Linked DNA regions of Homo sapiens: region 2 is linked to region 1. The links come from fine-mapping of genetic effects on gene expression. A gene starts in region 1. The other region holds a variant in brackets. All regions are shown on one strand. Distances are between the middles of the regions. Region 1 holds the start of POMGNT2 (protein O-linked mannose N-acetylglucosaminyltransferase 2 (beta 1,4-)). Region 2 has its middle 28 kb from the start of POMGNT2.

The links.
Region 2: its variant is fine-mapped to the expression of POMGNT2 in whole blood (TOPMed, PIP 0.96).

Annotation. Positions count from the first base shown.
Region 1 is chr3:43,103,594-43,107,994 of GRCh38, forward strand. It overlaps POMGNT2 (protein O-linked mannose N-acetylglucosaminyltransferase 2 (beta 1,4-)), which reads right to left and starts at 2,486. Exons shown (of 2, transcript NM_032806.6): 1 at 2,243-2,486. RefSeq lists a silencer at 2,254-2,573.
Region 2 is chr3:43,131,789-43,136,189 of GRCh38, forward strand. No RefSeq gene overlaps it. Among named protein-coding and RNA genes, the nearest start is that of POMGNT2, 28 kb to the left of the region's middle. The variant C/G (reference allele first, on the strand shown) is at 2,020.

The sequences.
Region 1 (4,401 bases):
GAAACACACAGCCAGGCTGCAGGGTCCTGCCTCTGACCCACTTGGTGCGGGAAGACTCCCTGCTGCAAGACTGGAGGCTGCCCCAGGTCATAACTGGGCTTCAAGAATGCAAGAACAGCAAGGACGATGGGCAGCAGAGAAGGAGAATTACATGGCACCAGTTCTGGAGCTGGAGATGCCAGGATATGAATTCCCATCCCTGTCACTTAGCAGCTAAGTGACCTTAGGCCAATTCTTTACCTCTCCAAGCCTTCACTTCCTGGCTTGAAAAACACAATTATACCTACTTCACAGGGTAGTTTTGTGAATTCAAAGAGACAGCAAAGGCAAAACACCATGTCTGACAATTATTTTTCTAATATTATTATTAATCGTAATGGTAAAATAACTCCTGTTCACTGGCTTTCACTCTCAGCCAGGCACAGTGCTAACTGTTTTACACGCATTATCTCATTTATTCCCCACTACCTGAAGTAAATGCTATTAATTCAATTTCACATTTAAGAAGGTATGCTTAGAGGCATTAAGTGAATTGCCCAGTGATACACAGCAATTAAGTAGAGGGGTTAGGATTCAAAACCAAGACGGACTCCAAAGCCCGTGATGACATTTGCAGGTTCCACCTTTCACATTCATTATTTCATCCAATTTAAGAAACCCTGGGAATCACGTGATTGGTAGGTCCTGGGGGGAAAGTATCCCACTGACAACCAAGCTGAGATTGGCAAGGACCCTTGGAATGGGGGATTTGGTAATCTAATTTTCTAGTTAGTGCAATATTTACTAGAAGGCTTTGTTTATTGCTAAATATTTTCTAAAGCAAGGCTCAGAGCAAGAACTTGCCAACTAGCATGCTTACATGGCCACGGTGGGCCCAGCCACCAGCACCATGCCCTCCTTTCTGCTGAAGATCTCCACTCTCCTTCTCGTTCTCGCAGGGGCCCAAGGCTCAGGAAGGAACGTGCTGACCACCCCTGGGGATGAGGGGACCTATGCTCTTTCCTAGCTCTGCAGGGACTGAGATTCCTCAAAATTAATATTGAAAGGATGAGCTGGAAGATCTGCAAGATTCATGAGAGCCAGAGAGGGCAGCTAGTACCATTAAAGATGAACCTGGACTCCAAGCACCTCTAACACTTTCTGTCGTTAGTCACCACGACTGCTGATATTTGCCACACACTTACTGTTAGACATACTGGGCTGAGGACTTGCCTGGCACTATTTCATCCCCACTGCAACCCCGTGATAAAGGCACTGTACTTTCATCTCCACTTCACAGAGAAAGAAACAGAGGCTAAGAGAGGATAAGTGACTTGCTTAAACGCACACCGCTAGTAGCCGAGAACCAAGATTTGAAGGCGGGGCACATATTGTAGTAAACATTTGGTGAATGAAACCTCCTCTGTCTATGCTCTTAGCTACTAAGTCCTATCAAGCTCGCCCCATAACCCTGAAGTCATCCTTTTCCACGCGGAGCCTTGCTTCTCCCAAGAGTACGCTCTAAGTGTTGGCTGGCAATAAAGTAGGCAGACACTGGTCGCCCTGCACCTGGTGCAAGACTCTGGCCTGACGGTCACATACTTTAGCAGAGAGTTCCCATCAGTGAGCTGGAGACGGGTTCCTAAACACACACATGGAGTCAGGAGTTCACTGGGTTCCTTCTTCAGAGGCTACTCTGGCACTGCCAAGCAGGCCGTGGCAAGCTCTTACCACCGGACACACATGGTAGGTGCCCTACTGGCCCCCAAAGCGCCCAGGAATCAGCTGCAGGCCTGCCGGGGTTCTGCCTTCAAAGGCAGTTGGGGAGGCCCAGGCCCGCTCCGCGCACCTCGCGTGGCTCCCCACCACCCCCGCCAAATGTGCACCACCCATCACCTCCCAAAGCAAAAGGGCCTGAGGACCCGACGCCAGTGCCTGCCACGAGCTGAGGGCTCGAACTGGCAAGCCCCAGGGCGTTGCCCAGGTCCCCGGCCCCCGGCCCCCGACCCCCAATCCCCGGCCCCCGACCCTGAGGGTCCACCCCCGCCCCGCCCACCTCCCGCGCCTCCCTCAGCTCGCTTCACACGTCACCCCTCAGTTCTGCAAACTCTCCTGGATCCCGAAGGCGTCCTAGAACCTCCCCCTCACCCCGGGGCCCAGCACCGCGTCGTCCCCTCCAGGGGGCCGAGGGTTCGACACCTCCACTTCAAGTCCCAGGCGGGTGTCGGAGTCCGCTCCAGCCCCAAGCGCGCGCGCGTCTTACCTGAAGCCTGGACTCCGCGGGACGAAGCCACCTCCGCCGACGCGTCCAGGAGGCCCCACGGCGGCGCCGCTTTCCCACCCCGCCGCCGCCCCCAGCGCCAGCTTCTGGCCCAGGAGGCCCAGAAGGCCCAGGCAGCCAGCACAGGTTTGGCCGCGCCGCCGGGTTCGCAGCGACCGCCACCTCCAGGCTCGCAGGTGTCCGCCGTGCGCCTGCCCGGCGGGCGAGCCCGGCGCGGAGCCTGTGCGCCTGCGCAGAGCCGCGAGTTCGGTTGCCCTGGCCCCGGCCACAACCTTGGCTCGCGGAATCCTGGGAGGTGTAGTTTTGCGTACGAGGACAGCCCGCGCCGCCACCAGCCTGCGGAATGTTGGGAGTGATAATTTGCGCCGAGAGGCTGAGTTTTACTTAGTGTTAGGATTACACAGTTATGGCAGTTCTGATAATAAATTTAAATGCAAGTTTAACCAACAACCAAATGTCATTGTAAAGTCAAGGTAATTAATACGTTTACATGCTTTTAAAAATTGTAATGCTACAGAGAACTTACAAAAGCACCAGTCCTCTGCGGCACCATTCCATTAACCAGCTGTCACCTTATCCCACCGTCCAGTCCTGGCTGTCCAGTCCTCAAGGGCAGCTACTTATGGCTGTGGCATCTGGCATTCCCGCGGATTCTCCGAATATACATATGCCCCTATTTCTTGAGTTATGAATTTTAGATCTTTTGACTTCTTTTTTAGATCTCTTGACTTTTTTTGAACTTAAGTCATCTAGAGATGCACCTACCACCACCAACTCCACCTCCATAGAGTTATAAGATTTCTACCTATCAAATTGGGAAAGCCCTGACTTTAATTTATGATTATTTTAAATTAGCCCAAATGTTAAGGTATTAAGTTGGTAAATTTTTGCAGGGCAATTTGTCAATACAGCCAAAAACCTTTAAAAACATGTAGTCAAAAGCCTCTAACCAAGAAATTCTAATAATTGTGGATGACTGCAAAGGCTGAATAGTGTTGTTTAGATGATAATAAACTGAAAGGCTGAAGTGGTGATATTACTTTCAGAGAGAGTAGAATTGACAGCAAGGAAAATTACCAAGAATAAAAAAGGGATAATTATATAATGATAAAAGGTTCAATTCACCAAGAAGACATAATTCTAAATGTGGATACACCTAACGACATAGCCTTAACATAAATAAATCAAATGATAGAACCATAATTAGAAATAGACAACTCTGCAACTGTAATTGGAAACTTCAGCATCCCTCTCTCAACAACTGATAGAACACTAGACAGAAAGTCAGCAAGGATATAGAAAAGATCAACACTAATACCATCCTAATCTAATTGATATTTACATAATACTTCACCCACCAACAGAATACACATTCTTTTCAAGCAACCTTGGTATATATATTAAGATAAACTGTATCCTGGATCATAAGTTTTTAAATATACAGAAGACATTAATATATATTTTACCAAAGTAGTTATACAGATGGCAAATAAGGACAGATGTTCATCACTAGCCATAAAGGAAATGCAAATTAAGACTATGCTGAGATATCACCATACACCTATTTAAAACAGCTTAAAAAGGCAGGGCGCGGTGGCTCATGCCTGTAATGCCAGCACTTTGGGAGGCCATGGCTGGCGAATCACGAGGTCAGGAGTTCAAGACCAGCCTGGCCAACATGGTGAAACCTCGTCTCTACTAAAAATACAAAAATTAGCTGGATGTGTTGGTGCGCGTCTGTAAACCCGGCTACTCAGGAGGCTGAGGCAGGGGAGAATCACTTGAACCCAGGAGGCGGAGGTTGCAGTGAACCGAGATCGCGCCACTGCACTCCAGTCTGGGCTACAGAGCAAGACTCCATCTCAAAAACAAACAAACAACAACAACAACTACAAAACAGCTTAAAAAATAAAATAGCAAATGCTGGTGAGTATGCACAGAACTGGATCTCTCATATATTACTCACAGATGGGTATATCATGGTAGTTTCTTTTAAAAAACTAAACATATGCTTCCCATATGACTCATCAATCACACTCCTGAGCATCTATTCCAGAGAAATGGAAACTTATGTTAACACACAAACTTGTACACAATTGTTCCTACTTTCTTTATTTGTAATTGTCAAAAACTGTCAACAA
Region 2 (4,401 bases), 28 kb after region 1:
GCCCCATGACTTAGAAACTACTGATATCTTTACATGGAAATATTATTGCATCTATAATCCCCGCAAGTGCATGAAGGCAGTTTTATAATTTCCATTTCCCCAATGAAAAAGTGAAAATCAGAGATGTTGAGTAACTTGCCCAAGACTTCACAGTAAATAGGTGTTAAAGCCAGGCTGCAAGAACAGGACTCTGTAGCAAAGGTACAGAGTGATACAAAATGCAGAGAAATGATGTTTAACACTGCCAGAATGCAAGGATCGGAAAAGGTTTCAGAGAAAGTGACATCTGAATGGGTCTGGAAGGAAGGTGAGAGTCCATGGGAAAAAAAGAAACAGAGCCTTCCAGGTAAGTGGAGAAGAGCAAGAACAGAGACTGAATTGTGGAAGAAGAGATAGAAAATGGATTTGGAGAATGACAGATGAGAGTGGAAATTGGGGCAGTGGTCAGCTCATCAAGGGCCTTAAAAGCCACATTAAGAGTTTTAGATTTTTTTCCGTTAAAGCAGAGCTCCTTAAACTGTAATGCGCATGAGGATCATCTGGGGATCATGTTAAAATGCAGATTCTGAATCAGCAGATCAGAGGTAGAGCCCAAGAACACATTTCCAATAAGCTCCCACATGATACTGATGCTGCTGATCTGGGACCACACTTTGAGTAGCAAAGCCTTAGACTCATGCTGTCCAATGTAGTAGTCCTCAGCCACATGTAGCTGTTTTGTCCTTGAAATGTGGCTAGTGAGATGGACGAGTTAGATTTTAAATTTTATTTCAGTTTAATTCATTTAAATTTAATATTTAGAGCATACTCAGTTTGTTATTTTAAAACCCTTAAGTACGTTTGGATTAACTTGAGTATGTGAACCAACTTTTTCAACTGTAAGATTTATGAAATCTCAGTAAAGGTCAAGTATTTCCAATGAGAGTTTATAATGAATTGAGAAGTGCCGTAAGTGTAAAGTATACACCAAAGTTCAAAAATTTTGTATGAAAAAAGAATGTAAAATTTCTCATTTTAATATTAATTACATATTGAAATGGCATTTTTGGATATACTGGGTTAAACATAAATTATTAAAATTCACCTGTTTCTTTTAACCTTTTAAAATGAGGCTATTAGAAAATGTAAAATTTCATACATGGTTTGCATTTGTAGTTCGCATTCTATTTCTATTGGACGGCACTAACATAGATGAGAGGGAGATATTATTTATTGGTTTCTAATCTAAGGAGAATTCCTGGGAGTGGCTCACGGTTTCTGCATTTGGGAAGCTGCAAGCACACAGTGATTCAGCCCCATCCCCCATGCGTGGGCAGATGAAGGCATGGGGGAATAACGTGACCCTGGATTCTGGAGGAGAATATTTATTTGAAGAGGTCCTTGGCTCTATCTTCCCCTGGTCTGCATCTGTCCAAAGGTTATACCTTGCTGGGAAACGCTATTAATTCTCATTACTTTTCTGGCCAGGATCAGAAGACAAATGGATGTATCTTTAAGACATGTAGCTCAGGGACTCCAAGCCCAGCTTGTCACTGCTCACTTTCCAGTTCACCTGTAACCATGACAACTTCATTGGCAGAAGTTGCTATGGAACATAATTCAACCTGACTCCAATTTTTTAAGAAAGAAAGAATGGAAAAACACTCAGCTTTGTCTCAGAGGAATATCAGAGATGGGCTCTCTGGCGATATGCTCTTGACTACCAACCTCATTTAATTACTTTTGCTTGTGATTTTGCTAGGGAGGCATTTCTGCCAGGAGTGATTTCCTGGGAAAGCTGTGAGGGGTTTACATGGAAATGTTACTGTTATGGGATCCAATGGCTCACATGACCTTGGGCTGGCCTGGAATAGGAAGATTTTCAGCACATGCCCTCAAGTTCATTTCATTTCCACTACGTTAGTTCTAATGAGGAAACTATCAGACATTTCATTACATTTCAGAGCTGGGAGGTGCTCGGATGGAAAATTGGGGAGGGGACTAAAAGATGGATCTGAAGCCACTGTGGGGTTAGGTCTT[C/G]GGCCTATCCAACCAAATTCAGGGAGGCAGAAAAAGCTGGGAGGATATAAGAAAAGAAGATACTGTACAACCAAAGAAATAATGGGAAAACGCTGTAATCTCGTAAGTAAATAGGAAATACCAGTACCTCGTTATTTCTTTGTTTCTAAAAAGACATGTGTGTATCTTAGATCTGTTTGCTGAAAGGGCCTAGGAGCAATGAGTGACCTTTATGACTGAATTGTAGTCTCTAAATACCATTTCCCACTAAAAGAAATCAGAGTTCCCTGAGGAATGGCTGATTTCACACCCAGAGCAGGGAATGTACAAGATGGTCCTGGCTGTGCCACAAAAGGAGATAACTGTCAATTTTAGTGGATCATATCAAAGGCACCCAGGGGTCAACTTGAAGGGTCTCCCACTGGCTAAAAATGAAACAATTTAAGCATAAAAAATTAATGCAGTAGACTGAAATTGCCATTGACTGCATCAAAATCCATGTTTATAATGATACTTTTGAAAAATAGACATTTACTGGTCAATCTTCAATGTTACTAGGGATCCTGACAAAGAAAGGGAAAGATTCCAGCATTTGTCCTGTCCCTTCTGCATGAACTGCTTTTCAGTGTAACCAGATAGGTAATGCAAGTTCTGTGTGGACAATTCCAACTAATAAAGGCAGATGGAAGGATACAATTAGTAAATATTTTAGAGTAATTTTAGGCAACAATCCTCAATGGATGCTGAAACCACTGGGTGAAATGTTGATGGAGAACTTTATACGAAAAAATCAGGGTGATAACACCTGGATCCACTGTTCCATCTCGGCACTACAAAAGTGGAATCACCAAGCATTATGTGCCTACTCATGTGATGCAATGCGAAGTGTAAAGCACCAACTCTGAGGCATTCTTGGCCAAAATATTGACTAGACGCTAATTGAACATTTATATGAAGATTTTTTTATTAATTTTTTTAGGCGCGATAATGGCGTGGTGGTCATATTTTTTAATGTCTTTATCAGCTAGAAATGCATCCTGAAGTAATTTGGGGGGAAATACTATGATGTTAGGATTTGCACTAAATCGCCCCAGCGTAAAACAAATATACAAAAGTTTGGGTAGATGAAATGAGACTGACAACAGGTTGATAACTGGGATTGGGCAGATAGAGGCTTATTGTATTATTGTGTTTTTAAGAATATTTGAAAATTTTTGTAATGAAAGGAAATCTGGGCTACACAGTTCTAGAAGGGAGGAAGCAAATTATTTTTGCTCCAAAATGAATGAAAAGCAGTTGCATTTTATGTAGGATTTGAGAGCTGTCCATCGTCCTAGCATCAAAAGTCTAGCCCAACCCACAGAGAGCCATCAGCAGGTTCTCATCACAGCTCTTACTCAGAATTTAACTCTCATCATGCATGTAAGTAGCTCCTGCACATTGTATCAAGCTTTTCTTGGTTATTCCCGCCTTCCCCACTTACACTCTTTTTCCATCTCTTTCTTTTCTCCTTCTATTTTCTCATCGTGTGTGTATCCATTGTAGCTCAGGCTCATTAAAAGACTGATGTCCAATATGAAAGAAAATGTGTGATGTACTGGTAATCAAACTTTTAAAAATACACCATTTTCAAGTGATTCACTTCACAATTTTCTGTTTTCTGACAATTTGATAAGTTAACATTGGATATCCAAACTTAGCCAATAATTAACATCGGCTATTAATCCCACTGAATATTAGAAACATACAAGACTATCATGCATCTATGCCATGATGTGGCAATATTCAAGGAAAGTCAAAATAACTAATTAGAGCAGTGCTTATGTTTCCTTTTTCAATTTTCATCTATTTAAAAAGTAATACCTCAGAAAAATCTTTAATTTCTCCAACATAAGACTATTGCCGTGTTTTAATCACCACATACACTGCAACATTCGCAGTGAACTTGCAGTTTTAGGTCTTTCTCCTTTTCCATTAAGTTTATATCACAGGTATGTTTATCGTTCTATTGGCAACTAGAGTATTTTTTTTCTTTCTTTTTTCTTTTTTTTTGAGATGGAGTCTAGCTCTGTCGCCAGGCTGGAGTGCAGTGGTGCTATCTTGGCTCACTGCAACCTCTGCCTCCAGAGTTCAAGTGATTCTCCTGCCTCAGCCTCCCAAGTAGCTGGGATTACAGGCACGTGCCACCATGCACAGCTAATTTTTGTATTTTTAGTAGAGATGGGGTTTCACCATGTTGGCCAGGATGGTCTCGACCTCCTGACCTCGTGATCTGCCCACCTTGGCCTCCCAAAGTATTGGGATTATAGGCGTGAGCCACTGTGTCTGGCCTTTTTTATCATTTTTTGTTGACATATAAAATGAAGATATAATATGTGATATATAGTATGTAATTAAAATATA